Regions from separate parts of the Homo sapiens genome. Here region 1 is linked to region 2. Evidence: fine-mapped expression QTL. A gene starts in region 2. The other region holds a variant in brackets. All regions are shown on one strand. Distances are from middle to middle. Region 1 overlaps MCM5 (minichromosome maintenance complex component 5). Region 2 holds the start of HMOX1 (heme oxygenase 1).

Region 1 (2,906 bases), 26 kb after region 2:
GGTCAAGAGTTCGAGACCAGCCTGGCCAACATAGTGAAACCCCGTCTCTACTAAAAATACAAAAAGTTAGCTGGACATGGTGGCAGTTACCTGTAATCCCAGCTACTTGGGAGGCTGAGGCAGGAGAATCGCTTGAACCCGGGAGGCGGAGGTTGCAGTAAGCCGAGATCCTGCCATTGCACTCCAGCCTTGGCGACACAGCAAGACTCTGTCTCAAAAAAAAAAAAAGAAAAAAGAAAAAATATTACTGCCTTATTGTCCGGTGTGGGAATAGTCATTAAGATGGGGAAACTGAGGCTCAAAGAGAAGTGACCCAGACAGAAGACCACACAGCAGGTTTTGACAGAACTTGAACTAGAATGTGGGCCCCTGCCTCCCAGGTTTGTTCTGTGTTGTACTCTACAGGTCCAAGGATGTCGCCATCAGAGCTGGGGTCAGGTCTCTCTCCTGGCACCTGCCACTTTGTAGTGAAATGTGCTTAGTGTATCTCTTGCCCTGCCACCTCCCCCCCCAATTGTGCTGCGAGGTCTTTAAAAGCAGGAGCTGTGCCTGAGGCTCCTCTGAACCCCAGGGTCCAGATAGCCTGGCACTGGGTGGATGCTCTGGAAGCATTTTTTGAGCGGAACAGAAGAGCTGTGGCCCTCCCTGCAGCTCTGTGCCCACCTCCTCCAGGCTCCTGCCCAGGATATTTACTGGCATATCTCAGATGCGTCCTGGCTCCCCTTAACCAACAAGCTTCCCGATGGCTCTATTACAGTCGGACATGATGTCACACCTGGTGAAGATCCCTGGCATCATCATCGCGGCCTCTGCGGTCCGTGCCAAGGCCACCCGCATCTCTATCCAGTGCCGCAGCTGCCGCAACACCCTCACCAACATTGCCATGCGCCCTGGCCTCGAGGGCTATGCCCTGCCCAGGAAGTGCAACACGTGAGTCTGTGGCCCAGAGGGACTGTGGGAGGTGACCTGAGTGAAGATCAGAAAGGATGAGAACAAGTAGCAAGCACTGCCTGCAGCTGCTTCTAGAGATCCACTGGGATGGGCTGGGCAGGGGTGTGCCCTTAGGATTGGCACAGATCTGATGCCCTGTGGCTCTGAGACACCATGAACAGGGTCCCTCTACATTGGTGACTTCTGTCTCACCAGGATACCCAGACAGCGTTGTAGGGAACCCAGGGTTGGGAGGGAAAAGCAGTCCAGGGTAATGAGTCTACTTGGAATCTTCTGAAGCAAACTATGGTTTGCTCACTAGGCCAGATCTAGCCTGCTGACCCTATGGCCCAGGAACACGTTCGTTCATTTAAGTATTGCCC[AC/A]AGCTGGTTTCGCACTACAAAGGCAGGGTATGTGGCCTCTTGGCTGGCAGAACCTGGAATGCACATCCTCCGGCCCTTTCTAGAAAATGTTTGCTGCCCCCAGTCTGAAGGAACCCCACCCTCTTCACTGGCTGCTCTTTCTTGGCTCCTTCGCTGGTGCCTCCTCAGCTTCCCATCCACCTGTGGCACAGCTGCCTCATTCCATGCTGTTGACATCTCTCACTTGGAGAGGCACGCTACCTCCTCCCTGATCCCCCGCGTCCACCCTCCACCCCCTCAGTCTGTTTTCCACCCAGCAGCCAGGTGTCCCTTGACACTCAGGTGGTCCAGTCATTTACTTCTTAGTCAAGTCCTGCACAGCCCACCACGATCTGCTCCTGGCTTCCCCAGGCCTCGCTGCCCCTCCTCTCTCCAGGCCCGGCCTCACTGCCTCCTTCCTGTTTCTGGAATACACTGACTACCCCCAGTCTCACTGCCTTTGACCTTGCTGTTTCCTCTACTGGGAGTGCTGTTCCTCAAGCTACCATAGTCTGTGTCCTCACTTCTTCAGGCTTCTCTTCACATGTCCCCTTACCAGGGGCATCTTGCCCAACCCTTCATCTTCAGTTTGGTGTGCACGTACCTCGTCTCTCCCACACCTGCCTACTTTTTTACTTTTCTTCACAGCATGTAGCTGTCACTCTTTAATATGATTGTTTGCTTGTATGTCTTTTCAGCCTCCCTTGATAGGAACTTAGGCTCCACAAGAGCAGGGACCTTTTTGTTCAGTGCTGTGCCCCCTGCACCTGGAATAGTGTCAGACACATAGTAGGTTTTGCTATGATGTTTACTTCTTTATGTTGCTATAATATCTATTGAATAATGACATAATTACCTAGGGATACGTAGAGGCTTAGACCCTCAGAATGGTCTAGAACTGCCTAGAATCCCACTGGAAAAGATCTTGGGATTTGAGTGGGGCTTTAGTAAGAGAATTGATGAACTAGCTCTTCACCCATGAGGACACCATGATCCTGCAAGAAGACCGAGTGTGACCTGTCTGCCTCCTCTCAGCAAGTTAATGGAAGGACCCAGCCTCAAGCAGTTCCCTTGACTCTTAATCCAGTGCTAGGTCCGTCAGTGTTGCCTTCCTTTCTTACCTCCAGGCAGCGTTGCCTGCCTGGCTTATCTCCAGCTTATTCTGGAGACCCCCATAAATTGCCGCTGGCAACGTCTCCTTGCTGGCTCCTGGGATGAATGAGCCCTGCCTTTGGATTCTCCAGGTAGCTTTGGTGACTCTTTTCCCTTACCTTGTACAGAGATCAGGCTGGGCGCCCCAAATGCCCATTGGACCCGTACTTCATCATGCCCGACAAATGCAAATGCGTGGACTTCCAGACCCTGAAGCTGCAGGAGCTGCCTGATGCAGTCCCCCACGGGGAGATGCCCAGACACATGCAGCTCTACTGCGACAGGTGAGGCAGACGGGCTGGGAGGTGGGCATCTACGACGGTGGATGTCCCAGCTGTGGCCCTAACCCGAGTGTTGGGAGTGGGTCATCTGGAGCAGGGTGAGTAGGGTGGAGAAGGTGGCCAGTTGCAGAGCACCTGCTC
Region 2 (2,906 bases):
TCCAATACAATCTCAGAAGTGCCTCTGGGCTGTAGTGGCCCTAGGCTGAATTCCAGGAAGTTTTTTTTTTTTTTTTTTGTTTTTTTTTTTTTTTGAGGGACAGCGTCTTGTTCTGTTGCCCAGGTTAGAATACAGTAGCGTGGTCACAGCTCACTCCAGCCTCTACATCCCAGGCTCAAGTGAACCTCCAGCCTCAGCCTCCCAAGTAGCTGGGACCACAGGCATGTGCCACCATGCCCAGCTAATTTATTTTATATTTTGTAGAGACAGGGTCTCCCTATGTTGCCCAGGCCAGTCTCGAACTCAAAGCAATCTTCCCACCTCGACTGGGCTCAAAGCGCTCTTCCCACCTCAACCTCCCAAAGTACTGGGACTACAGGTGTGAGCTACCATGCCAGGCCTGAAAGCCATCTTAAAAAAAAAATCTTAGAATGAGAATCACAGTATTGGGAAAGGACTGTATGAATCATCTGGTCCATTCGTTTTGTCCTCTGGGTTCACCCAGTGACCCTATTTCCCCCGAGTTCTAAGGAGTCCACCTCATGCAGAATTGATTCAATAGGCGATCAGCAAGGGCCAGCTCTGCTCTGGGCCCTGAGCAGGCACTGAGTATAAGTCAGACCTGAATGTGCCTGGAAGAGTGTCCCACGCATTCCAGCAGGGAAGCAGTTTGTATGACAGGTGTCCCAGTCCAGGCGGATACCAGGTGCTGCCAGAGTGTGGAGGAGGCAGGCGGGGACTTAGTCTCCTCCCTGGGTTTGGACACTGGCATCCTGCTTTATGTGTGACACCACTGCACCCCTCTGAGCCTCGGTTTCCCCATCTGTAAAATAGAAGCGATCTACCCTCACAGGTCAGTTGTAGGGATGAACCATGAAAATACTAGAGTCTCTGTTTTTTGACAGGAACTCAAAAAACAGATCCTAAATGTACATTTAAAGAGGGTGTGAGGAGGCAAGCAGTCAGCAGAGGATTCCAGCAGGTGACATTTTAGGGAGCTGGAGACAGCAGAGCCTGGGGTTGCTAAGTTCCTGATGTTGCCCACCAGGCTATTGCTCTGAGCAGCGCTGCCTCCCAGCTTTCTGGAACCTTCTGGGACGCCTGGGGTGCATCAAGTCCCAAGGGGACAGGGAGCAGAAGGGGGGGCTCTGGAAGGAGCAAAATCACACCCAGAGCCTGCAGCTTCTCAGATTTCCTTAAAGGTTTTGTGTGTGTGTGTGTGTGTGTGTGTGTGTGTATGTGTGTGTGTGTGTGTGTGTGTGTGTGTTTTCTCTAAAAGTCCTATGGCCAGACTTTGTTTCCCAAGGGTCATATGACTGCTCCTCTCCACCCCACACTGGCCCGGGGCGGGCTGGGCGCGGGCCCCTGCGGGTGTTGCAACGCCCGGCCAGAAAGTGGGCATCAGCTGTTCCGCCTGGCCCACGTGACCCGCCGAGCATAAATGTGACCGGCCGCGGCTCCGGCAGTCAACGCCTGCCTCCTCTCGAGCGTCCTCAGCGCAGCCGCCGCCCGCGGAGCCAGCACGAACGAGCCCAGCACCGGCCGGATGGAGCGTCCGCAACCCGACAGGCAAGCGCGGGGCGCGGGACGCGGGACGGGCGCCTTTCTCTCCCAACCCTGCTTGCGTCCTAGCCCCACCCCGGGACACTGCCACACAGCGACAGAGCCCAGGAGCCAGAAACTTGGGCTCTGGAGTCAGGAGGTGCGGGGTTCTGATCCTGCCTGTGCCCGTAGGGTAGTTGGAGGGAGGAACGGTAATTTACATGCCTGGCACCCTGGTATGCGGTTGGTGACCAAGATGGGAGTGTCCCTAGAGTATCCAGTCTTTGAGGTAGCCAATTTTTTTTTTAATCCTACTTTCGAGGTGTGTTTGGAGTTGCTCTCTGCTGAATCTAGATCTCTGGGGCTCTGCCAGCCTGGGGGAGCATGCTTGGTTCTCTTGGTGGCATCTGTCCCTCACTAGCTACGGAGGACCTGAGCCAGACATCACCCTGGCTGCGGTGTTCCATGTCTCACAGATAGCCCAGTTCAGGGAGGCGACATGCCCAAGAGTGCTCAGTTAGCTGGTGTCAGAACTGGGCCTTGAACCTTGGTCTGCCCACCTCCAGGTCTCACTCATTCCCTTCTTTCAATAATTTGTTAGTATTTTTTTTTTTAACTCCTGGGCTTAAGCATCCTCCCACCTCAGCCTCCAGAGTAGCTGGGACTTACAGACATGTGCCATTTCTCCTGAGACTTTGACCAGCTGTGTTGTAGAACAGGGAAGCAGGGCAGGAGAAAAGGGAAAAATGACAATTCTGTGGGGAGGCAGGGATACGGACCCATGACAGAAATACTCCCAGAAAGACTTTTTCTTTGACTAAAGCAGACTTTCTCAGGCTTTTTAACCCTGACGCCTTCATGATGAGCATAACATGATAGGGGGTCATGAGATTTGCATCTGGAACTTTAACAAAATAACTGAATTAAATATTGGGTCTAAAAGCCAATCAAAGCAATTACAAACTTGGAGATGCCGGTTCATGGGGCTGCTGCTTCTTCCTGGGTTATGCTGTACCTCCTCCTCCTCTCCACTGCGAACTACCTGTACCAGGATTTCCCCCTTGGTTTGGGGGACTGTATTATTTAGTGTTTTAATGACTGAAGAGTGTTTACAAAGCTGCGAGAGCCACCATGCCCAGCCTGAATTTGTTTTTTGTTTTTTGTTTTTTTGTTTTTTTGCTTTTTTGCTTTTCTTTTTTTGAGATGGAGTGTTGCTCTGTTGCCCAGGCTGGAGTGCAGTGGCGCGATCTCGGCTCACTGCAACCTCTGCCTCCTGGGTTCAAGCGATTCTCCTGCCTCAGCCTCCCAAGTAGTTGGGATTACAGGCGCCCACTACCATGCCCGGCTATTTTTTTTTTTTTTTT

Evidence for each region. PIP is the estimated chance that this variant, and not a neighbour inherited with it, causes the effect.
Region 1: its variant is the best candidate, but not a certain one, in a credible set for the expression of HMOX1 in whole blood (TOPMed, PIP 0.55).

The regions. Positions count from the first base shown.
Region 1 is chr22:35,405,796-35,408,701 of GRCh38, forward strand. MCM5 (minichromosome maintenance complex component 5) reads left to right here. Exons shown (of 17, transcript NM_006739.4): 5 at 758-930; 6 at 2,613-2,768. Among named protein-coding and RNA genes, the nearest start is that of MCM5, 7.1 kb to the left of the region's middle. The variant AC/A (reference allele first, on the strand shown) is at 1,314.
Region 2 is chr22:35,379,628-35,382,533 of GRCh38, forward strand. It overlaps HMOX1 (heme oxygenase 1), which reads left to right and starts at 1,469. Exons shown (of 5, transcript NM_002133.3): 1 at 1,469-1,569. The coding sequence starts at 1,547. RefSeq lists silencers at 1,190-1,269, 1,570-1,739.